Homo sapiens: one gene and its partners. The protein of the gene in region 4 purifies or fractionates together with the protein of the main gene of each other region. This does not show direct contact. Each region holds a gene or a part of one and is shown on either strand. Other genes may lie near its edges.

Region 1 (3,500 bases), on a different chromosome or scaffold from region 4:
CAATGCCCTGATTTTGGCTCACTGCAACCTCCACCTCCGGGTTTCAAGCGATTCTGCTGCATCAGCCTCCCGAGTAGAGTAGCTGGGATTACAGGCGCCTGCCCCCACACCCGGCTAATTTTTGTATTTTTAGCCGAGATGGGGTTTTGCCATGTTGGCCAGGCTGGTCTTGAACTCCTGACCTCAGGTGATCTGGCCTGCCTTGGCCTCCCATAGTGCTGGGATTACAGGCGTGAGCCACCGGGCCCAGCTTTTAATTTAATTTTTAAATTTAAAACAATTATATGGTCCAAAGTCAAAACTATACCAAAGCTCTTTCACAGATGTGTCCCCTGCATCCTGTAACTCTCTCCCCCGCATTCTGTAACTCTCTCCCCCTATAGATAAGCATTTTTAACTAGTTTTTGGTTTACTTGTCCATTGTTTCTTTGGGGAAAAAAAAATTAATCTAGCTAGCTATATACTATGTGCATATATATGTCCTCCCTTTTTAATATCTTTTTCATTATGATTTCACTAAGATTACTGGCCATGATTTGGCTATCAAATTTGCAAGTTTTTCTCATTCCTTAAGATACAACTCTTGTAAAATAAAGGCTTGTATTCAATTACACTAGTGTCTACACTTTTTCTTAGTATTGTTCCCCCTACCTTATAAATAGGCTTAAGTTACTATTTTCAGATCTGAAGATCATTTTCCTTGATAGAGAATATGTATTCTTTTCATCTTCGGTAAATATTATACAATAAAAATGAGTTCATCTGTTCTTTTCCTTTCTTGTTCAAAATACACCACCAACAAAACCATTTTAGATTGTACTGTATGTTCCCTATAACATTACTTAACAAAATAAATCATACCTTGGAAACACTGTGCTTTCTGTAAAATGTGGTGGTCCATTCACCATGTACAGTCCTTCTGATCCTCGGACTAAAGAAGTAAAATAAAAAGAACCACAATTACTTTGTTAATAAAGACTCAGTTAACACAAATGTGTTTTTTAAAAAAGCAGCTTTAGTCAAAATATTAATGAAATCATTAAATATTTCATTGAACTATAGAATATTAGCAACAAAAGGGCATATTTTCTTACTCTGTTACATAAAATCATATAATTGCTGAGAAATACGTAACTTTTTAAATAAAACTCGAAACTTTGTCACCACTGAAAGAAAGGCAGCTGTCTTGTGGTAAAGAGGACATGAATTCAGAGCCTGACCTAAGTTTATAACTGCCTGTGGAACCTTGGATACGTTACCACCTCTGAATCTGTGACCTAATCTGTAAAATGGAAATATCAGAACACAGGATAGCTGTATGCTTTATATAAAGTAATAAAAAAAGTATATGTTTAAAGTTTTTAGAAATATAAGGCAATATTAATATATTCACAATTTATCAAACTAAGAGAACAAGTGGAATGAGACATATTCATTTATTAAGGCCCCAATGACAGTAATAGCCTAAAAAATTAAGTGGAAACAAAGTTCAAGATTAAATAATCATCTACAGAACTAGACTATACTTCTTATTTCTATGTTTAAATTTATTTATTTTTTTGAGACAGGGTCTTGCTGTCACCCAGGCTGGAGTACAGTGGCATGATCAAGGCTCACTGCAACTTCAAACTCCTGGACTTAAGTGATGCTCCTGGCTCAGTTTCCCAAGTAGCTGGGACTACAGGCATGTGCCACCCTGCTTGGCTATTTTTTTTTTTTGTAGAGACAGAGTCTCACTGTTGCCCAGGCTGATCTCTAACTCCTGGGCTAAGGCAATCCTCCCTCCTCAGCCTCACAAAGTGCTGAGATTACAGGTGTGAGCCACCGCACCTAGCCTAGACTATACTTTTTTAAATGGTTGAATTAAATGCTTCTAAAGCTGAACCAAATAAATAGATTCATTTAGTCAACAAATGCTTAGTGGGAAAAAAACGAACAAACTACCTCCTAGGCCCTGTGTTGAACATTGGCGAAATAATAGGAAAGAAAATCAGCCTTGTCTCTGACCTCATTGAACTTTGCAAACAGTAATCAAATAATTGGCCAAATATACGGAATCATATACCTGTGTTTAGTCCTTCAAAGGAAAGGTATATGGTACCACTGAGGGTATAAAAGAGAGTTTTAACCTAAAAATGGAAGGTTAGGGAAAGCATCCTTAAGTGTTTTGTATACTGAGATGTAAAGGATCAATGGCAGTTAACAAGCAAGGAGAACAGTTAACAAGTGCAAAAACCCCATGGAAAGAAAAACGACAGAGCGTCAAGGGGATGGAAAGAAGGCCTGTGTGGCTAGAGGATGATGAAGCTGGAAAACAAAATAGGGCTCAGGCTAGGCGTGGTGGCTCACACCTGTAATCCCAGTACTTTGGGAGGCCGAGGCAGGCAGATGGCTTGAGCCCAGGAATTCAAGACCAGCCTGGGCAACATAGGGAGATGCTGTCTCTACAAAAATTAGCTGGGCACGGTGGCACATGCCTGTAGTCCCAGCTATTCGCACGGCTGAGGCAGGAGGATCACCTGGACTTGGGAAGTCAAGGCCACAGTGAACCATGATCATGTCACCCACCACCAAGCCATGTTAAGTTTTATATTTCTTGTAGAGACGAGGTTTCACTACATTGCCTAGGCTGGTCTTAAACTCCTCAGCTCAAGCAATCCAATCTGCTTCCCTCAGCCTTCCAAAGTGCTGGGATTACAGCTGTAAGCCACCTGGCCCAAACTGACATTTTGTACTTCTAAGATGCCTTGCTAGATTTAATTAGTTTTTCTATTAAATAAATTTAATAAAAGCATATACAGTTTAATTTACTCCTGATAAGCTGTGATACAAAGTTTATTAGAAAAAAACACAAAATCAGGTCCATAACAGAACATAAACTGTTTTAAACTAATAAAAGCAAAAATAAATAGGGACTAAAAAACTTCTCAATACTGAAACAATTTTTTTCTACATGTAACTTTCTAACAAGGAATCCTTTTTAGTTACAAGTATCTGTGAAACTAAATACAATGCGTAGTTAGCTTAATATAGTGTATTCTGAGTTTGTGTGATTCCCTGTTTTTAGTGATTTCCCTCTTCAATCAAATGGGATTGGCAATATGTTCTAGCAGAAAGAAAAATCTAGAATGCAAGCAGTTCTTTTAAGACAACAAATAAACGCCAGTTTCACACAGTAGCTGTGTGAAATACATTAAACATCTACATAATCTTTTCCAAGCTTACTAGCCTTTTTAGACATTCATATACTATTTATTGCTCTAGGCCTGAGTTAGAGAGAGAAAAACACAGGGCTTCAATAAACAAGGATCCCATGGCAGGGGTGTAGTCATCTTTAAAATACGATACTTTTCCCAACTCTTACATTCACTGAACTATGTATTAGTTTAGGAAAATCACTCAATTTTGAATAAATTATCTCTGTGACTTCAACTGGTCAAGCAGATTAGACAATGTGAATTTCACGTAATGGACATTGCTGTTTTATGTGCCTAGCAACC
Region 2 (3,500 bases), on a different chromosome or scaffold from region 4:
CAGGACACCATTCAGCATCTCAGCTGCCCGTCCCAGGGGTGCGTACTCCAGCAGAAAAGGAAAATAACAAATTAATACCTTAGTTAACCAGGCCGAGCTGCTACCAGGCTGGCGACAGAACGATGGCAGCTGACCTTTCACTGGTGCGGAGCAAAGCCGAGAACAGGAAGCCTGTATGCTCCCACAGAAAAGTGTAAAAATAAATTTGCAAATAACTTCGAAAGATGTGGCTGAGCAGCCGCAGAAATGAAAAGATGCTAGTGAGCTTTAAAATTTAACCATGTCTGGCCAGCTCCACAGTCTCATTTTTAAAATGTCTACAAGTCAACGTAATGACTTTGCACTTCAATTCTGCATTAATTTGAACTGGAAACCCTCCCTTCCTCTTTTTTTTTTTTTTTTTAAGTAGGAAAGTATGTAGGGAAGGAAAAAGCACAAATTCTACCTGAGTACTAAAACAGTTACCTTTTAAAAGACAAATCATGCTTATGTTCACTTAAGTAAGCGGAACAGACAGAAACCACTGCTCGACTTAAAGTGTCCAGAAAAAGTGCTTCTGTAGCAACAGAATGCCTAGAAGAACTCCTGGATTTCTAGAATGTCTCAGTATAAAACCAAGTCTTTCTCTTACTCTGTTGTACACGCTGGAACTGGATGGGTTCATTGGATTCCAAGACATGTGACCACAGAATTTCAGAGTTAAAACAAGACATCATGAGAAGGAACCTCGTTCTTAAATAATATTTTTAGATCTCTAAAGCCAGAGAGGGGTTTAACTGCTATTTCTGTGCAAAGATTAGAAAGCCAGTGTCCGAGGAAGGCTGCCAAGGGACTGGGGTTTACCTCCAGGCTCAAATTGTTCGCCGATGGGTGAGGCTGGGACCCTGGGATCCGGAACAATCTGGCCTCAATCTAAGCCATCTTTCTGAGAAAGGGAGAAGAAACTCATTCCCAGAGGGCTGAGGCACTCACTGTAAGCACTCCAACTTGCCAAGAGAACTTACGATTTTTCGCTCATAAAAGGCCCCACTGCTGTAGGTGGTGGCCAGGGTGGAGGCACACTCTTCCAGGTACCAGGGCTTGTAGCCATTCTCGGTGGCGCTGCTGACGGAGATGGTGTAGATGCTGTTGGTGTAGCCATCGCACGAGCAGTAGTCCCCCTCTCTCCCGCCATTCCCAGATGCCCAGACGAAAATGGAGCCCAGGCCCTGCCGGCCCTGGAGGGACAAGAGGAACAAGGCTTAGCCCCGCAGCAGAACCTCGTAGGGTGGGTCTCCCCCCGAACCTAGAGTCCCATCTCCCAAATGTTCCTTCAAAGGGATAAGAAGGTTGCATTCAGACCATCTGGATGCTGCTGAGAGCATGGTTTTGGGGGCTCTGTTTGGATTTTAATGGTGTGCCTTTGCCTGTAGCAGCAGCCTTAAAATTGCAGAATCACAGGATCATACGAGGGGAAGGGGCCAGAAAGACTCCTCTGTTCTTCACAGGAAAATCAAGGGTCCCAACACAAGCTGCTCTATTCCAGAGCCATGCCTGTCATTTCCATCGCAATGGCCTAGGATCAAAGAGAGCTAGCAGTGCTGCAAATGACACTGAGATTACAGATGATGGAAGAATTTACAACTTTAATTTTTCTGGGTTGAAAGAGCTGGTCTGGTGGGGAAAAGAATGATTTTTCTGGAAAACATACTTGAAGAGGTACCCTTCTTGCAGAGAGAGCTAAATTTGCAAAGAGGGATAGGACCATGAACTCTGCGTGAAGACAGAATAGGTGGAAAGGGTTACGTCCAGGAAGCTGGTAGCAGCTTGTGGGTGTCCTGTCAGAGCTCCCTGTGGTCTCTGCAGTGGGTAAGTATCAGGGTGGTCTGATTTATATCACTAGCCAAGGCCAGGGCCTCATTTGTGTGTAGGTTTTCTTTCCGTTTTTTTGTTTTTTGTTTTTTTTTTTTTGAGACAGGGGTCTTGCTACGTTACCCAGGCTGGTCTGGAACTCCCGGGCTCAGGTGATCCTCCTGCCTTAGCCTTCAGAGTAGCTGTGCCTATAGAAGTGTGCCGCCATGCCCAGCTGTGCACCGGTGTTCATTGTTAAGAACGTACACATGAAAGCAAGTCTTTGAAAGACAGCAGCCAGTCAGGGCAGATTCCTGCAGCTCCGCTCTATCCCATACCCACAGGATGGATGATTTCTGACCACACTGAGAATCATTCCAGCCACAAGTACCAGCTAAAGATTAGCGAGTGGAAGACTGAACTGACGGATATAGTCCAGATGGCTGGATGGGCTGGTGGTGCACAGCTGGCCCGAGAGAAGGGCCAGCATCCACCTCCACGGGAAACTGGAGCCACTGGCTGGCCATCACATCCTTACTAAGGACCGTCCTTCCCAAACAAACAGAGGAAATTTATACTTATGCTCAACAATCGGCCAATTTAAAGATAACTTACACACCAATTCTGCAATCCCCGTAGAGCCAAATTGAAGCCTGCTGCTGACCAAACATGTCACACTCACTTTTGGAGCACAATGAGTGGACCCGCCTGCTCTGTACGCTCACACCACGGGGGTTTGTAAACCAAGGAGACTCCAGCTCCAACTTGAGGCTCCCAAGAAAGCCCACAGGAAAGTTCTTGGAGCTCACGCAGCCCCGCTGCTTAAGGCTGCCGCGTCCACTCTGCTTTCTGCATCTGCAAGGTGAACCTGTCGGGGTGGCCAAGAGCTCAACAGAAAGGTCCCTCCCAGAAAAGCTAACCTTCTGAGAGAAAGGCACAAAGAGCTCAGGAAGGTGGTGTGTGTGTGCACGTGATTACCTGCAGGAAGAGATTCAGCTGAAGCCGGTTTAAAGCAACTACAATGCAAATCAAAAGGTATTTAACCCATCAGAGCCTGTCCTTATTCCAGGTGAGAATTAGTCCTAGACACTGCCACTCCTAACTCCCCACCCCACTTGAAATGACTTATAAAATGTTGTCCTTTTGCAAGGTGGAGCATGCAACCTTACTGCTCCAGGAGCAGAGAATGGCCAAAAACAGTGCTCCCCAAACTTGAATGTGCACACCCTGGAGTCACCTGGGAACCTGTTACAATGCAGACTTGTGCCCCAAAGTCCAGGGTGGGCCTGAGAGTGTGCATCCCTAATGAGCTCCCAGGGGACGCCAGTGCTGCTGGCTCTGGACCCCACTTTGAATACCAAGAGCCTGAAATGCTCAAGGTTTGCATTTACAGCATGTAGCATGCATTTACTATGAGACCAACCCATCCTCATAGGCATCAAGGTACCAACAACCTTTCCCCTCCTTAAAACGGTTTCTGGGAAGGAGACATGGAAATGAGGCGAGGAAACAGCCAGGTCTGAGGAGTGTAGAGATGTTTTAACTGTCTCTGACGACTTTATTTTCACTTCCCAGATCTTCCAGTGGCTTCATGGAAGCCATGGGACAGAAGCTGTAGGGGACATTTCAACCCTAGCCATGAACTTGCACTTCTTTTCAGTAAACTCACA
Region 3 (3,500 bases), on a different chromosome or scaffold from region 4:
TTGAAGATGTATCTGCTTCCTGGGAAAGAGATGGAGTAAGAAGGTGGGGTATGAACAGCAGCCCTGGTGGTAGGAACTGTCTCCCCACATGGTCTGGGACAGACGCTCAGGGAGTTTCTGGGAAGGAGTGTGTATGTCCCCATGTCCTCGTGAGTCCAGCCTGGTGACATTTGAGGAAGTGAGGCTAGATGTGCAATGTGCCACATGGACATGGGAGTCACGCAACCCCTGTCTTCACCAGAGACAGCTGTCAGCAGCAGAGCTTCCCCGGGGGCAGGACCCACCAGAGGGAAGCCAGGCCCACACTGCTCTCTGTCATTGCCTCTTTTGGGAGTTGCCATTTTATAAAGCAGGCAAATCCCACCTCAGGGTTCATGCGTTTATTTTAAATTTTTTGTTTTTCAGTTAAACTTATTTTAAAGTTGTGTTCACCAAAAGCAGTAAGACTACAATGGTATATAAGGAAAAAATTGCCCCCATTCTCCCCACACACACACTTTGAAGCTGTGTGAGCAGCCTGGCTTCTGTCTTTCTGTATATCCTCCCAGCCACATGTGGAGGTCGTGTTTCATTTGCATGTTTTTACAATAACAAAGTGGGGCTACCGCACCCGCACCCACAGTCACCTTGCTCCTCTCATCTGCCCGCAGGTCCTGGAGGTTCCTCCAGGTCTAAGGGCCCCATGGTCTTCCACAGTGTGAGGTGCTGGTTAATTCACTCGCTGTCCTGCTGGCAGATGACCTGGTAGATGCAGGACTTCTGCTGGGCCATTGCACTGACTTCATTCTGCTCTGCATGGGTCCTATGGATTCATCCCCCTCGCTGCCCCACACCTCACCTTCTGCTGTCTTTTCTGTGTTAGGCAGCAGTCCTGGAAACTTTGGAATCCCCTTTACCTTGTTTGCCACCCAACGTTCCGTTGGTCATCAGGTCCTGCAGCGCCATCCCCTTTCCTGCTGTCCTTCCCACTCCACCAGGCACCTGAGTTATTCGCAGGCTCAGCCTCCCCAGCCTCCCTCCTGGCTGGCCCATCCTTCAGACCTGTTGGGGATCTTTCCTTCCCTCATTTGCATCTTCTCACACCTAGAATGACCTTAGACCTTAGCGTTCCAGTCTCTACACAGACCTTGCCCTCACTGCAGTCTCTGTCCCTGCCCATGCTGGCTGGCCTCAGCCCATACCCTGCCTGAGGCTGGGCCTGCAGGTCTGGCACCATTGTAAGATTGCACAGGAAAAGGACTTGGTGCTTTCTGAGAGCTTCTGCAGTGTGTGCATGTGGGTGTGCATGTGTGTGTGTGCACGTGTGGATGCATATCTGTGCACGTGTGTGAGTATGCATGTTTGTGTGTACATGTGTGTATTCATCCACCAGTAATCCTAATTTCCATCTCTTTATTTCCTACAGTAAGAGTTCCCTATTTCATTGATTTGAAAAAACCACAGGATCAAGGTTTGAATCACACGTGTAACTACTACCTGCAGCCAGAGGAAGACGTGACCATTGGAGTCTGGTGAGTGCCAGTGAGCTCTGCAGCCCCTCCAGCAGCAGGAAAGGACCCTACATGACTGAGCTGGTGCTGTCTTTGACATTGGCCTCTGAAATGTTGTTCATTTTTATCTTCACCTCTTCCTTTCCTAAAGGAAAGATCTCAGTACATTTGATCCATCCTAATGTTGAGGGATTCAATGGCTTTAAACTCTATTCCCAGCCTTTCAAAACAGCAAAGGCTTTGTGAACAGATTATTATTTTTAGAGAGACTTGTTTCTAGGAAAAACGAAAAGCAAACAAAGAAGCTAGAAACAGGATATAAGTGGCCGGCACAGTGGCTCACACCTGTAATCCCAGCACTTTGGGAGGCTGAGGCAAGTGGATCACTTGAGTCCAGGAGTTTGAGACCAGCCTTGGCGACAAGGTGAAACCCCATCTCTACTAAAAATACAAAAATTAGCCAGGCATGGTGGTGCACACCTGTAATCCCAGCTACTTGGGAGGCTGAGGCAGGAGGATCACTTGACTCCAGGAGGCAGAAGTTGCAGTGAGCTGAGTTCACGCCACTGCACTCCAGCCTGGATGACAGAGCAAGACTCTGTGTCCAAAAAAAAGAGAATATAAGGGAAGAATCACAAACACTGGTTTGAATATATCTTCCATCCAGGCGCGGTGGCTCACGCCTGTAATCCCAGCACTTTGGGAGGCCGAGACGGGTGGATCACTTGAGATCAGGAGTTCGAGACCACCCTAAACAACATGGTGAAACCCCGTCTCTACTGAAAAAAAAATACAAAAATTAGCTGGGCATGGTGGCACGCGCCTGTAGTCCCAGCTACCCGGGAGTTTGAGGCAAGAGAATTGCTTGAACGCAGGAGGCAGAGGCTGCAGTGAGCTGAGATTATGCCACTGCACTCCAGCCTGGGCAACAGAGCGAGACTCTTGTCTCAAAAAAAAAAAAAAATATATATATATATATATATCTTTTCCAAGAGGTGAACATCTAGATACTGAAAACAGCTTGATTTCTTTTCACATATAGCTTCGCACCAGCTGATGATGATGGTGTTGGCTGTCTTCTGAGTATTTACTTTTTTAAGCCATAAGTTTACACTGGACATAAGCCTTGTGACTTCTCTGTGTCTCCTTGGAATACATTTTAATGTTTTCTTCTGTACACAAGTGGTGCTTCTGAACAGCTGAATTAAAATTGACCAACCTCACTGTAGCATTTCCGTTTTTCTCTGAGAAGTGAGCCTGAATCACAGCCCTTTTATCTAGCTGAATTTATTTTTCAGTAGCCATAACGTCGCTTTCCACTGTCTCAGAAAACCACTGTGTATGTGAGAAGCTTCTAAATGAAATGCTGTGAGTAGCTTCCCAGTGTGGATGAGAGAACATTCAGACATTTCTAACAGTGGTCCTTGGTAAAGAACATAAAACAAGAAGGGAGATTTTTGTTCTTAGTAGTTGGTGCTGGGATTAAAGTCTTTTGTCACTTCCTGATTTGATTTAATCTAGCATTTACTGACCAATGTGTGACTGTGGGACTCCTCAGGTTTCTGTCTGAAGCATGACTTGTTTTGCACAGAGCTGCTGAGTGGGACTTGGTCAGCCCTCTTCTTGGTTAACATGAGTCTGTCCTATTGCAGGAGGGTGTTTATGGTGGTGAGACTTAGGCTGGAAGTACTAACAACTCCTGCATACATTATCAGCTACCAGAAAAGGTTTTGTTTAGTGATGTCAGTGGCAAGTGTCAAGGCAGTGACAGCCACGCTGTGTGTTGCTGTGTGTTGGTGGGTGCGTGTTGGTGAGTGCGGCTGCTGCCCACTCTCATGCCCTAGGCAGTCACAATGACATTGGGCCCTCAGGCAGCAGCAGGCCCAGCTCACCAACTGCCCCCACCATCGCTTCATCAGACCCTCCCACCAGCTTCCTGAAAGGAGGGCCTCAAGGCCTAGAGTGGAGCCTGGGGGCCATTCCTGGCCATGCCTGGCCATCGCCTGTCTG
Region 4 (3,500 bases):
CCTCAAACCTGAAAATCATGGCTTGCATCACTCCAGCCCAGCACTCTGCCTGCTGACTGCAGAGGAAAGCAAGACGAAAAAAGACACAAGCCTCCAGCCTGCCTGAGGAGGCAGGCCAGGTGCTGTTTGTTTTGTCATAAAAGTAAAAGCCAGAAGGCAGCTCCATTCCTAAAAAGTAGAAGCATCCAGAGCTCTCAGCCATGGGAGTCACAAGCCCCCACCAGAGTCAGCTCTCACCCTGCAGGCCAAGCCTCAGGCTGCAGAAATCTAGACCCTCCTTTCTACACATGTGGCCACAATATCATGATTAGAAAAAGTGTCTCACATTCCCGTTCAGGGGCCCAGCATCTGCCTCCTCTCCTGCACAGAGGGTCTGGGCTTCTCGGGGCCTGTAAGTTGGCTAAGCCCCTCATCGGACCACTGGTCTGCTGCTTTCTGGGCAGTGGCCTAGAACTTCAAGGCTGATGAGCATATGCAGAAGGCAGGAGGACACAGTCTGGCTGGCTTGGGCCTCACTAGCTGACAGAGGGGCTGCCCAGCCTGACCACAGGGGTTTCATGGCAGGGACTCCAGACCACTCACTCATCCTATCTGACTTCACACACCACCTGGCTTCTGCTCAGAGCTGCCATTGTGCCTTCCCTGACATGAGTGCAGCTGGGACACACACCAGGGAAAGGCTCTTGTCTCCTGCCAAGTCCACAGGGGAGAAAGCGTTACCTCCAGGGAAACAGAGGCAGCCGTGCTCTGTCACTACCAATTTGTACAAGGCACAGGGCCTAATTGTTGACTTTCTACAGCAAGTCTCCTGTGTGAGACCAGGACCTCTTCCCAGCATTCTAAATGCAAGACATCTCAACAGCCCAGCATGTCAGAGTGGCATCCCGTAGGATGTCTGCTTTCTCTCATCAGTCCTGGAGTCGCACCTCAGAGAATGCCTGTGAGCAGCATCCGACAGAGACTACCAACAAACTGGCCCAGGCATCTGGCACCAGAGAAAAATGAACTCCCAGTAGACAGTTCCACCACGTGACATTTTCATGATTGACAGCCCTCTCCCACTTTCCCTAGCCTGGCTTACATGTTGAGAAGGTAGGATTCCCCATTACGAGAGGAGGTGGTCTCTGAGCAACCACAGTGATGTTTCCATTCTGGAGACTTACTTCCCTTGGAAACCCCACCACCACCCCTCAGGTTCTCACTCTGCCATCATGGTGGCTGACAAAGTGCAGCAAGGCAGGCTTAACCATGGGGCAGAAGCAATTCGGGCAATCAGTCCTGTCCCACCACTTCCTCTTTCAGGAAGAATGGGTCCCTGCCTAGGATGTGCCTGAACTGCTCCCACTTTGCTCCTGCCTCTTCCCTGAGATTGAGGTTTGTTAGTCATCTCTCTCCCAAGCACCCCTCTGCCGGGGTGACTCCACCTGAGCGTACAGGTGTCTCCAGGTTCAGCCCCCACCTGCATGGGCCCTCACTAGGATTCCCACTCTGTGTTGTAGGTGATCACAGAAGCCAGCACCGGCCAGAGCCAGCACCTCATCCGCACACCCTTTGCAGGAGTGGATGATTTCTTCATTCCCCCAACAAACCTCATCATCAACCACATCAGGTGAGACTGGCCCATGATGCCTCTAAGGCACTCCCCGCTCCAGCTCAGCCCTGCAAGGGGCAGCATTGCCCAGCATGGGACCTGCTCATTTCTCTGTCTCCTCCACTCCCATGCTGGATTTGGACCCCATCACGAAGGAACAGAGAAGGTCCAGTAAAACAGACCCAGAGCCTAGTCCTCATTGCTTGGGGTCAATAACTCTATTATACTGAAGGCACCCAGCTCCTAATGCCCTCAGTGGCCCAGAAAGGTCAGGAAGTCCCATCCTTAAGGTAAAGACAGCAGAGGAAAGAAAGAAACAGTAGCAGTAAATTGAGCACCCTCTGCTTGCTAGACACAAAAATCTAGTCCCAGTGGTCTTAACCCCTATGTTATAGATGAGGATCAGAGAAGTGAAGACACTGACCAATGTCACACAGCTAGGAACTGGCAAAGTCAGACTAAATGTAAAGCCAAGTCTTGTTTCAGTGCACCATTCTTCCACATTCCCATCTAACCACAGCCCATAATACTTTAGGAACCCCCAGAGCATCTGTGTGGGGAGCCCACAACGAGACAAGGCTTCCTGATTGCCATGGTTTGCCACTACCTAAAACAACCACCCAATAATAAGAGCCATGGCCTCAACTGCAGACCTCGGCCCAGCATGGTCAGTCCCCATCCGTATTCACTTCAGAGAGCCCCCAATATCTTCTGTAAACTTACCACTGCCAGACGACCAAGCCTGTCTCTAAGCCATCAAGACCCCAAATGTCTTGTAGCACTATTTATACCTTTCTATAATCCGCCATCAAGCACCTCTCTGCAGAAAGAAATGATTCGTTTTTGCAAGTTGTTGCTGGAGATGCACCCATTCACCCTCACCCAAGGAAGAAAGCCACTTTATGAACCCTCCCACTGCAGAGAGAGCCTGTGCAAGAGCCTCTAAGAGTATATTAAATGATGAAGCCCTCATAAAGCAGCTGTATTCAGCTGAGGGTCGGGCACACTCAGAGGTTCTGCAGTTCCTGTGTGTGGCTTTTAACTTAAAGTTTCTTATAAGAGCAGAGTTTTCTTTCTTGCTATTTCCATGCTCTGGTTCTTTAAGGATGCTTTAAAGATGTGCCTTGGAGGGAGTATTTTCCTCTACTCTGGGGTACAGTTTTTCTAGAGAAAACTACAGAAGAGATTCTGCTCTATTCCTGCAGGTGTACACAGCACCAAAAGGCCTCTGTGAGCAAGGGATTTAGGCACAGGCTCTCAAGATCAAAGGGAAGTCCTGCCTGGAGTCAGGCTTTTCCATACTTCCAACCAGCCTCCAAAGAGGAATTTTAGAAAATCCAGATTTGAGCAACTCCCACCTACCTGAGTCCCTCTGCTAAAGTTCCCTCTTAGATCAAATCCTCCCAATAGCCCTAGGAAGGAGCTAACCTGGTTACAGTCACTGAGGCTCAGAGAGGCAAGCAGCCTGCCCCAGGCTCTGCAGCTAGCAGGGCAGTGTGCCGGCACCAGGCCATCTGGCTCCGGAGGGAAAAGCTGTCCTCAACCCCAATGCCCAGGGTTCTTCCTACCCGCATCACCAATGTGGTCAGAGAAGAGACTGCCCCTACATGTTTCCCTTCCAGGGGAAGAGGGTACTAACAGGACATCTGCACTTGTTCAGCTGCATCTGCATCCTCAAATTCTAACTTGCCAGTTAGTCTAGAAAACAGCAAGGATATAGAACTCTTTTCTTATCTTTGTAACAGGCAGAATCGGGGCAGGGATCTCTTGCCCTTTTCCTCCATGCTCACCATCCAGACACAGACTCTCCCCTTTCTAGCTGGCATGGGCCTCAGGGAAACAGTTCATAAGTATTATAAATGGAGAAGCAGTTGAAGCGCCTCTCGCCTTCCTCCATAATCATTTCCAA
Region 5 (3,500 bases), on a different chromosome or scaffold from region 4:
TGACATCCACCAGTGGTACCATCACCAGCCCCAACTGGCCTGACAAGTATCCCAGCAAGAAGGAGTGCACGTGGGCCATCTCCAGCACCCCCGGGCACCGGGTCAAGCTGGTAAGGGGTCCCCTCCCCACTCCTTATGCGGTGTGGCTGCCCCCGGTCAGAGGCACTGCCCAGAGCCACACAGGCTGCAGGCTGAGCCCAGAGGTCTGCCATCCCCAGGAGACCCCAAGTCTGGCCTGGACAGAGGCCCCTTTCCCAGTATAAATTAGGGGCGTCCCTGCCTTCGCCCTATTCCTGGGCCCTCCTTCACTGTCATCCCCAGCTGTGGCTGCTCCCATGGGTATCTGTGAGGCCTAGGTTTGGGGCCCTCATCCTTGCCCCACCTGCCTTCCAGCCAAATTTTTAATCTGTGCTCCTTCCTCATCCCCCTAGACCTTCATGGAGATGGACATCGAGTCCCAGCCTGAGTGTGCCTACGACCACCTAGAGGTGTTCGACGGGCGAGACGCCAAGGCCCCCGTCCTCGGCCGCTTCTGTGGGAGCAAGAAGCCCGAGCCCGTCCTGGCCACAGGCAGCCGCATGTTCCTGCGCTTCTACTCAGATAACTCGGTCCAGCGAAAGGGCTTCCAGGCCTCCCACGCCACAGGTACTGTCCCCGGTTGTGGGAGTGTTCACTGAGCCTGGTCTCCAAGACTGGGGTAGAGTCGGGGGTTTCAATGCGGGTATGAAGGTACAGAGGGACTGAGCCCTGCGACCCAGGGCCAGGGTTGTGGGTGATGCAAACATTGTGTCCTGAGAACCAGGCCTGGGGGGCAGGGATAGGAGGGTGTGGTTAGGGGTTAGGATGGCAGTGATGACGATGGACAGGAGAGGTGAGGGAACTCAGGGACAGAGAGGAAAGCCCCCAGAGGTCCCCCTGAGCGTACGCGGGCCACCGCAGCAGCCCAGCCACACACCAACCCTGAAATATACTCTATTCATTCTCTGATATTTATTTTTTTATTTTTATTTTTATTTATTTTTTATTTTTTGAGATGGAGTCTTGCTCTGTCGCCCAGGCTGGAGTGCAGTGGTTCGATCTTGGTTCACTGCAACCTCCACTTCCTGGGTTCAAGCGATTCCCCTGCCTCAGCCTCCCGTGTAGCTGGGATTACAGGAGCCTGCCACCATGCCCAGCTAATTTTTGTATTTTTAGTAGAGACAGGGTTTCGCCATGTTGGCCAGGCCAGTCTCAAACTCCTGACCTCAGGTGATCCGCCCGCCTTGGCCTCCCAAAGTGCTGAGATTACAGGCGTGAGCCACCGTGCCCAGCCCATTCTCCTGATACTTATTGACATGTAACATGGATGAGGCGGCATCCTAAATGCAGGTCCCAGAAACAGACCAAGCAAAGATCCCAGCCCTTGAGGGGCTTGCTCGGCTTTCACTTGCTTGTTTATTTAGCAGCCATGAACTGAGCTCCGCTCTGCGAGAGGACTAAGGGGCACGTGGCCTGAATCAGGCATGAGCCCTTCACTCCTGCCCCCCACCCCATACTAGGAACTCGCAGTCCAGGAGAGAGACAAGGCAGGCACCGCCCGTGACAGCATGAGCCCAAGCGGGAGCCAGGCAGGAAGAAAGGCACCCCGGCCTAACTGGGCATGTGTTGGTAGAGGCATTCGAGGCAGGGGGAGGTGCCCAGGCAGAGACACAACCCCAGCCCAGCCCAGAGTGTGCCCAGGTGACAGCAGGTCATTTACTTTGGCCGAAGCAATGGGTGTGTGAGGACAGCAGGTTGTGGGAATGATGTGGCTGCAGAGAAAGGCTGGAGTCCAGGGGGATGCCTTGAGTGCCAGACCAAGGATGCCACGAGGGAGCTTTGCAGTCTCCTCCTGGGTCCTAAGCCACCTGTCAGGGCATCCCCAGAGCTGATGGTCCACAGCCTCCCCTCTTCCCCTTCAACTCAGTCCCTGACCCAGCCCCGTCCTTCCCTCTCCCCACCTCCTCTAGCGAGACCTGAGTGCCAGGTGCACAAAAGCCAGAGGGCCTGGGGAGGAGGGTGGCCCCATGCACTGTCCTCTGCCCTTCCCAGCACAGGGTCACAAACCGGAGGCCCGGAACTCCATCTGGCCCTCAGACCTGCTATGTTTGGCCCACACTGTGTTTTTTTTAAAAATGTGAGCCAACACTTAAAAGTTAGGAGTTTTCACATAAAACCCAGATGTACGGCTTCTCTCTTGAAAATGGAAGCTGTGGCGACACTGGGCCCACATTCTTCCATGACAGCCATCAGCTGGAGAAAATGAGCAATGCCCTCTTTAGACAAAGTGTGTGGTGCCTCGTGCCACCGCTCCATGCTGTCTTCCTCTCGGTGAGCCTCACTGCCTGTTCCCCTCAGCCTAGGGCCAAGGTCCCTCTATTTAGAGATGGGGCAGCACAGCAATGTTCTGGGCCAGGCCCCCACCCACCCATCACTGGCCTCGTGGCCTTCACCCAGGCCTCCATCCTGCCGTGAGGGCACGCCATGGCATAGTGTGCCATGGGGCCTGGCACCTGCGGTGCTCAGGGCTGGTTGGCCCCTCTTGTCCCCTACAGAGTGCGGGGGCCAGGTACGGGCAGACGTGAAGACCAAGGACCTTTACTCCCACGCCCAGTTTGGCGACAACAACTACCCTGGGGGTGTGGACTGTGAGTGGGTCATTGTGGCCGAGGAAGGCTACGGCGTGGAGCTCGTGTTCCAGACCTTTGAGGTGGAGGAGGAGACCGACTGCGGCTATGACTACATGGAGCTCTTCGACGGCTACGACAGCACAGCCCCCAGGCTGGGGCGCTACTGTGGCTCAGGGGTGAGGCCCCCACCCCTCGCCCTCCTGGCCCCATGCCCCACGCCCCACACTGTCCTCCACCCTTCTCAGCCCAGTCTCCAAGACCTAGCGCCCACACAGGCCCCGGAAGTTGAGTGCAGCACGCGTGTGGCCCTGTGTGGGAGCCCAGAAGCCCAGCCTTGTTGGGGCTACTCAGAGACACTGCCCCATCCCCGACGTAGGAAACCAAGTCCTTTCTGGGCAACCTAGAAGTTCCTGCGGCCTCTGACCCAGGCCTGCCTCAGAACCAGTTGGCCACGGCCTGGAGCGGATGGAGCTTCCTCTGTCCCTCCTTTCCTTACCCCTCCCCCAAGGCAGCCCACCAGGGCCTGGAATGGGGGGCAGAGGTTGGCACCAGAGCCGGGGACAGGGCGCCTGAGCGGAGTGGCCCTCACCAGTCCTTTTGCCGGAGGCATAAACACTCTTGTCATTTCCTCTACCAGTTTCTCCTCCTGATGAAAGGCCAGCTTGTCCCAAAGCTCTTGCTGCTGCTGTCCCAGTGGCCCCTGGGCACTGCTTCTTGGTCCATAAAATGGCACGTTAAGAGTCAATGAGCAAAAGTAGGCTTGATGGGCTTTTCCCTAAGGACATGGGCTAGCCTCGTGGGGAGGATTTATTTTCCTCCCTGTAAGAGCTTGCAGCTGCCTCTTCTTCTTTT
Region 6 (3,500 bases), on a different chromosome or scaffold from region 4:
AGGGTATCAGGTAATAAAAGACTACACTATCTTAGTGAATAATGTGTCACTTTAAAGTGGGAGTAGAAGAGCTGTTGAATGTGAGTAGCATAGGCACAGGAGGAGAAAAGGCATATCTTTGGTTATACGTAGGAGGGGATTCCAATGTGGCTGGCACTGGATCCTGACAGACAGCTGATTCTGCTCTGTAGTGGGCGAGAGTATATGGTGAAACATGGATTGGAGTTCATTTATAATCCAAAGGATTAGTTTAGACTTCTCTATTAGAATCTGTTAGAATTTCTTTCTTTGGGCTTCCCTGAAAGAAACTTAGAAAAGGATGAAGCAAGTCACGGGAGGAAGATTCAGTGATACTGACCTATCTATTCCGGAACTGTGTCTGTGAGCTCAGGTTGTCCATAGCCTGCTGCAATATGTCTAAAGATTGATCACTATAAGTTTTCTCAGGTTCTTTTTTCCCCTTGTCGGTCTTACATTTCATAGTCCTTTAGCCCTCAAGGGGCTAGAAGGCAGTTTATGACCTCTGCTACTGCATAGATGTAAGACTAAAGGTTCCAGATAATTGAAGTTCTCCTGACCTGAAATGTAAACTCTGTACAGTGGCTTTGCTGTATTCTTTCACATCCCTTTGAGTCTTTGAAGGTGAGGCGGGCCACACTAGCTGCTGTTTTCCAGATCAGGGCATGCCATTGTTTGACCTGCCACCATAAAACAGTTGTACATTCCTTTGTCTGTCTTTTGAGCTTAGGCCTCCAGACTAACCACATCAGGTCTCCCTAGTGATTTGTCTGCCCCCACCTGGGCAAGACCAAAAAGAAAAACTAAGCAGTTAGTGACATGCAGTGCAACCGGACGGAAATGGACTGTAGAATCGAAATTGTAGAGAGATGGAGAAGAAAATGTTTGGGGCTAGGATAAGTGTTCAGAATCTTAAAGTGAAGTTGTCTTTGTAAACCTCTAGGCAAAAACGAGCTGAGTTGAAAATTGAGTAAGAAAATTAAGCTGTTAGGTCTCCTAGATCTACCTGGAGGGCCAGGCTGCGAAAGATTGGTAGTGATTTTTGTAAGTAATACTCAGAGCAAGAATTGTTGGTCTCAGTGGCTACCTAAGTGTATTGAAAGCTGTCAGTAGCTACAAGACGAATGGACATGTATTCCTGTTTTTACAGATACTATTACAACAAGAGGATCCTTCATAAAACAAAAGGGAAAAGATTTACCTATAAATTTAACTTCAACAAGCTGGTGATGCCCAACTACCCATTCATCAACATTCGGTCAAGTGGTAAGATACAAACTCTTTTGGTAGGGAATTAATTTTGAATTGAAAAGAATTTTTAAAAATCCAAATCTAAGACATGGCATGTTTAGGAAGATTTTAGAAACACTAAAATAATGTGATCCTTTGGATTGCCTCAATGTTCTTACTCAAGTCATCTCACTTATAAGGAGAGTTATAGGCTATTCAGTATCAAGATAGATTTCTTTGGTTTATTTGGTTGGTTCCCTTTTCTGCATATTGTTTGTAATCTCCTAGATACTATTACGCTATCTTGTTTGGGAATGATGTTTCATAGGTTTGTGATGATCTTTACGTTCAGGACTCAGTTTTAACACCCAGCCCAGTGGTTCTTTCATAGATGGGAACCTGTTTCTACAAACACTTCCGATTTTCTGTGAAACTACCAAGCTCTCCCTTATCAAGTGAATATCATCAAAACCACAGCATCCTTGATCAGAGAAGGGGGAGGTTCACATGTTTGCAGTGAAAAGCAGTGTCTTTGATCTGCAACAGCAAATCCTCAGAGAAAAAGATTCTGGGGTTACTTGACCTTCTCTCCTGTTAAGTGCAGTAGGGCTTCCCCTCTTGACTTTCCTGGTTATAGCTTTCCATCACAGCTCCCCACATTCTCTCTTGATGTTGAAAGCAGTCTCTCAAAAGACTTTGTTGTTGTGTGGTTTTTTGTTTGTGATTTTTTTCCTTATGCAAATCATACTCCTGCCCAAGAAAATACAGTAGTTCCCCTTATCTGAGCAGTATATGTTCTAAGACCCCTAGTAGATTCGCAAACCACAGATAGTACCAAACTCCATTCATATATATGATGTTTTTTCTTCCCTTAACCCCACTCATATGTATCTGTGATAACGTTTAATTTATAAATTAGGCACAGTAAGAGATTAATGACAATAATAAAATAGAAAAATTATAACAATATGCTGTAATAAACTTAATGTGGTCTTTCTCAAAATATCTTTGTGTACTGTACAGACCTATTTTCAGACCTTTGTGGGTAACTAAAACAGTGGAAAGCAAAACCTCAGATAAGAAAGGACTACTGTAGATTGTATTTAACTGTTTTCTGACCAGTCCATCAGTAAGTACTCTGTCATTGTGGCCTTGTATGCTAAGGCAAAGAATGCTGATCATGCAGTAATACAACTTCTCAGAAAAGCTGGAAGAAACCTGAAAAATTAGTGGGGGTGTGGTTGAGAGAACATAATGTTGAGATCCATTGCAGATATGTAATTACTACACAACAAGTTAGGGCAGTTTTAGCTTGACTCTGCTATCATTACAGTTTCATCTCAACTTCTGTAACCACTCCCTCCTGTCCCTGGGGCATGCATTTAAAAAAAAAAAAAAAAGTGGTATTGGAATGCATCTCTCTAATTACAACCTGTTTTCTTTCCTTGTGCCTGAGGGAGAGGCGTTAGGAAATCAGACCTGTACTCGCCACTCAAATCTTGCTTCCTCTGTTTCTCACTCTTGCCCCTTCCTTGTATGCCTAGAGGAATTGGGAATCTAGATGTATATACCAACAATTTTAAAGAATTTGTTGGTTTTCATACCCCTTCACCCCACTCCCAAAAAAATGTTTCATTCGTCTTGTTCTTCTGTCTTTGACCCATTTTTATCTATTGAAAATCCAGAACTTCAGCCACTTGGACAACCTAGAATGGGGCATTCATAAGCCCTGGGAAGTAATGTGGTTTTCCAGGGCAAGGAAACCTGGATCCTCACTCTGTGAAGAATCTGATCTAGAAACCTAACAATAGTGGCCCAGCACACCTGTTCTGCCCGAAGGCGATTGAACCAACATTGATCTTTAACCCAAGCTCAAGATCCTAATCAAAAAGCCACAAGGGGCCGGGCCAGGTGGCTCATGCCTATAATCCCAACACTTTGGGAGGCCAAGGCCGGCAGATCACTTGAGGTCAGGAGTTCAAGACCAGCCTGGCCAACATGGGGAAACCCCCATGTCTACTAAAAGTACAGGTGGCAGTCACCTGTAGTCCTAGCTACTCAGGAGGCCAAGGCAGGAGAATCACTTGAACCTGGGAGGCAGAGGTCGCAGTGAGCTGAGATCATGCCACTACACTCCAGCCTGGGCGACAGCGAGACTCAGTCTCAATAAAGCACAAGGAAAGCAAAACTGTGTACATTTCTTTTAGTACATCTATCTCTACTACCTGGTTGCTCACATCCTAGGTATAGAC
Region 7 (3,500 bases), on a different chromosome or scaffold from region 4:
ACCTGGCTAATTTTGTATTTTTAGTAGAGACTAGGTTTCACCATGTTGGCTAGGCTGGTCTCAAACTCCTGACCTCAGGTGATCCACCCGCCTTGGTCTCCCAAAGTGCTGAGATTACAGGCGTGAGTCAGCACGCCTGGCACCCCTGTCTCAACACCCCACATGCAAACCATGGGCAAGTCTTGTCACCTCTGCCTTCAGATGATGTCTGGAGCCCAACCAGCTCTCACCTGCTCTACCACCACCACCTCGGTCCCGATCACCAGGCTGTATCACCTGCACCCATACAACAGCCGCCCCACTTGGCCTGGCGTCTGTTCTCAGCACAGTAACCAGAGTGGTCCTTAGAAACCTGAGGCATGCTGATCCCAGCTCTGCTCAGTCCTCCCAAGCAACCAGCAGTGTCACCTCTCGGGCCAGACGACTCCTCACGTCTCGTCATGGGAGGCGCAGCCCTCCTTGACCTCTCAAGGCCTCCGGCCCCCTCTCCTGCCCTCTGCCTGCTGTTCACTCCCCTCAGCCACGTCGGCCTCTTCTGTTCCTTGAACACAAAGTGCTCACATACTCCTCAGGGCTTTTTCCTGACTGTTCTCTCTGCCTGGGACACTCTTTCCCCAGATATCCCATTCAGGTTACATGGAATTTTCTGGTCTCTACCCCACATGTGCGTGAGAGCTGAGCTGAAAAAGTAATGTTAAGTGAGGGGTGTGCTGCTTGATTGACGCTCCTTAGAGGGGGAGATACACACGCACACACACATGCTCACCCCCGGGCTGCACCCCTCACCTCTGCCACAGCACTGAGGGCCTCCCCCGCGTTGCTGTTCTCCCAGGAATTCCACGGCCTTTGAGTACCTGGAGGAGTTCCCCATACAGATGCTGGCCCAGCTGGAGACACTCACAGGGAGGAAGGCAAAGCACGGGCTCTTCGTCATCAACATGGAATATGGCAGAAATTTCTCTGGCCCCGACAAGGACGTCTTCTTTGATGACCGGTCTGTGGGGCACACAGAAGATGCCTGGCAGTCTAACTTTCTTCATCCTGTCATCTACTACTATAGATACCTCCCCACCGGTGAGCAGGTCTCTGCCCTTCCCCAACCTGTGGGCTCCTCAGACCTCACCGTCTGCAAGGTTGTCACCCACCCTGAAACCTTCACACACATGCTCAGCTGACAGGTGGGATGGCTGCGGGACTCTGCCTAGAGACCACTTGGGCAGAAGGTCCGAGAATGATGAACGATGCTTCCAGATTCTGACACATACCGTGACTGGCACAGGCCATGCGGGGGGTGTCGTGCTCTCCGCCAGGCACTGTGTAGTAAGAGGGACACGGCCCTGCTGCAGGTCTCCAGAGGCGGCTGACTGTGGTGGGGCGGGAGGGGTCTGAAGAGTAGAGGGAACTGGAGCTGGTTAACACAGTACAGAGAAACTGGGCAAAATCCCTAGGCCTGTCATTTTGTCACTGTGTGACCTTGGACCATTACTTAACCTCTCTGAGCCTCAACCTCCCCTCTGTAAAATGGGGATTACAACAGTACCTTTCTTGTAGGGTTCCATGAGGTTAAACCTGACAGTGTACACAGAATGCCAGCCCACTGCAGGCACAGAGTAGCTACCAATAAGTGAACAACCTCGGGAACGCACCCCCTGCTTCAGAGCTTGAAGGGCAGTCAGGTAGAAGAGGGTGGTTTAAACAGGGGTTGTTCCCAAAGGCAGAAGTCGTGTCAGCAGGTAGCAGTGACGGGTGCAGGTCTGTGGTCAGTATAAGGAGGCACTAAGAGGCTGGGCATGGTGGCTCATGACTGTAATCCCAGCACTTTGAGAGACCAAGGCAAGCGGATTATAAGGTCAGGAGTTCAAGACCAGCCTGGCCAAAATGGTGAAACCCCATCTCTAAAAAAACATGAAAAAAATGCAAAAATTAGCTGGGCATGGTGGCACATGCCTGTAATCCCAGCTATTCAGGAGGCTGAGGCAGGAGAATTGCTTGAACCGGGATCCGGGAGGCAGAGGTTGCAGTGAGCCGAGATTGTACCACTGCACTCCAGCCTGGGCTACAGAGCAAGACTCTGTCTCAAAAAAAACAAACAAACAAACAAAAAGGCCGGGCGCGGTCGCTCACGCCTGTAATCCCAGCATTTTGGGAGGCCGAGGCGGGCGGATCACGAGGTCAGGAGGTCGAGACCATCCTGGCCGACATAGTGAAACCCCGTCTCTAATAAAAATACAAAAATTAGCCAGCGTGGTGGCGTGCGCCTGTAGTCCCAGCTACTAGGGAGGCTGAGGCAGGAGAATCGCTTGAACCCAGGAGGCAGAGGCTGCAGTGAGCCAAGATTGTGCCACTGCACTCTAGCCTGGGAGACAGAGCGAGACTCTGTCTCAAAAAAAAAGAAAAAGGAGGCACTAAGAGTTAAAGCTGTTCAGTGGGGGAATTGGTCACCTCCAAATTCAGGTTTCCCAGAATAGCGACGGCCAAGTCTTGACTCGATGGCCATCTGACTGGAACACCACAGAAGGGAGCCCACACCAGGGAGAAGCTGAACTAGATGAGTGCTGAGACCCCTCGCCTCTATCTGAGTCTTCTCAGAGAAAGGCCAGTTTGAAAGCAGCCACAGCCAGGCGCAGTGGCTCATGCCTGTAATCCCAGCACTTTGGGAGGCTGAGGCGGGTGGGTCACCTGAGGTCAGGAGTTTGAGACCAGCCTGGCCAACATGGTAGAGACTAGAAACCCCATCTCTACGAAAAATGTAAAATATGAGCTCGGTGTGGTGGCGGGCACCTGTAATCCCAGCTACTCTGGAGGCAGAGGCACAAGAATCGCTTGAACCCAGGAGGTAGAGGTTGCGGTGAGCCTAAATTGTGCCACTGCATGACAGCCTGGGCAATAGAGCGAGACTGTCTCCAACAAATAATAATACAAAATAAAAAGCAGCCACAGTAGATCTCAGTCCATGTGAGTCTTAGGGAAACGCCAGCCTCACGTTGTTAGCTTCAGCACTGCCTTCCGAAACCACAAGGGAAAAGCCTAGTTCCTCTTCCTCATGGCAGCCTTTCAAATATCTGCAGGTGGCTCTTGAACAGTCTGACCACAGCCCAGCATAGGAGGCTGTCGGGAAAGCCGAGCACGAGTGAACGAGGGAAGTGTTTGGGCTGTGTGGGATCCGTGCTGTGTCGGCCCGAGGAGGGGAAGCCCAGCCTCACAGCTCTGACATGGCCCCCTCTCTCCTCCCCACAGAACAGGAGGTGAGGTTCCGCCCTGCACACTGGCCCCTGCCTCGGCCCACGGCCATCCATCACATCGTGGAAGACTTCTTAACAGACTGGACTGCCCCGATCGGGCACATCCTACCTCTGAGGCGCTTCCTGGAGAACTGTTTGGACACCGATTTGCGAAGCTTCTATGCAGGTAACTTAAGCTCCCAGAAAGACAAAGGGTCTGAGCTCCAGGTTGAAGAAAGGTCACAGAGACCCAAGACCCGTGGAGTTTCAGGACCCATA

What was found.
Region 1: the proteins of FSTL4 (region 4) and EIF2A purify together in Homo sapiens (affinity purification with mass spectrometry; one large-scale study listed by BioGRID and IntAct). This does not show direct contact.
Region 2: the proteins of FSTL4 (region 4) and PCSK6 purify together in Homo sapiens (affinity purification with mass spectrometry; one large-scale study listed by BioGRID and IntAct). This does not show direct contact.
Region 3: the proteins of FSTL4 (region 4) and ABHD12 purify together in Homo sapiens (affinity purification with mass spectrometry; one large-scale study listed by BioGRID and IntAct). This does not show direct contact.
Region 5: the proteins of FSTL4 (region 4) and BMP1 purify together in Homo sapiens (affinity purification with mass spectrometry; one large-scale study listed by BioGRID and IntAct). This does not show direct contact.
Region 6: the proteins of FSTL4 (region 4) and ETV3 purify together in Homo sapiens (affinity purification with mass spectrometry; one large-scale study listed by BioGRID and IntAct). This does not show direct contact.
Region 7: the proteins of FSTL4 (region 4) and FOXRED2 purify together in Homo sapiens (affinity purification with mass spectrometry; one large-scale study listed by BioGRID and IntAct). This does not show direct contact.

What each region holds. Positions count from the first base shown.
Region 1 is NC_000003.12:150,549,787-150,553,286, reverse strand, and holds part of EIF2A (eukaryotic translation initiation factor 2A), read right to left. Parts: intron 932-3,500; coding exon 862-931; intron 1-861. UniProt on the Homo sapiens protein: Functions in the early steps of protein synthesis of a small number of specific mRNAs. Acts by directing the binding of methionyl-tRNAi to 40S ribosomal subunits.
Region 2 is NC_000015.10:101,392,208-101,395,707, forward strand, and holds part of PCSK6 (proprotein convertase subtilisin/kexin type 6 isoform PACE4-AI preproprotein), read right to left. Parts: intron 1,218-3,500; coding exon 1,005-1,217; intron 1-1,004. UniProt on the Homo sapiens protein: Serine endoprotease that processes various proproteins by cleavage at paired basic amino acids, recognizing the RXXX[KR]R consensus motif.
Region 3 is NC_000020.11:25,321,336-25,324,835, reverse strand, and holds part of ABHD12 (lysophosphatidylserine lipase ABHD12), read left to right. Parts: intron 1-1,405; coding exon 1,406-1,511; intron 1,512-3,500.
Region 4 is NC_000005.10:133,200,042-133,203,541, reverse strand, and holds part of FSTL4 (follistatin-related protein 4 precursor), read left to right. Parts: intron 1-1,499; coding exon 1,500-1,609; intron 1,610-3,500.
Region 5 is NC_000008.11:22,206,872-22,210,371, forward strand, and holds part of BMP1 (bone morphogenetic protein 1 isoform 3 precursor), read left to right. Parts: coding exon 1-110; intron 111-431; coding exon 432-645; intron 646-2,573; coding exon 2,574-2,824; intron 2,825-3,500. UniProt on the Homo sapiens protein: Metalloprotease that plays key roles in regulating the formation of the extracellular matrix (ECM) via processing of various precursor proteins into mature functional enzymes or structural proteins.
Region 6 is NC_000001.11:157,131,896-157,135,395, reverse strand, and holds part of ETV3 (ETS translocation variant 3), read left to right. Parts: intron 1-1,168; coding exon 1,169-1,284; coding exon of another isoform or gene 1,285-1,316; exon of another isoform or gene 1,317-2,251; intron 2,252-3,500. UniProt on the Homo sapiens protein: Transcriptional repressor that contribute to growth arrest during terminal macrophage differentiation by repressing target genes involved in Ras-dependent proliferation. Represses MMP1 promoter activity.
Region 7 is NC_000022.11:36,493,541-36,497,040, reverse strand, and holds part of FOXRED2 (FAD-dependent oxidoreductase domain-containing protein 2 isoform 1 precursor), read left to right. Parts: intron 1-786; exon of another isoform or gene 787-832; coding exon 833-1,074; intron 1,075-3,237; coding exon 3,238-3,408; intron 3,409-3,500.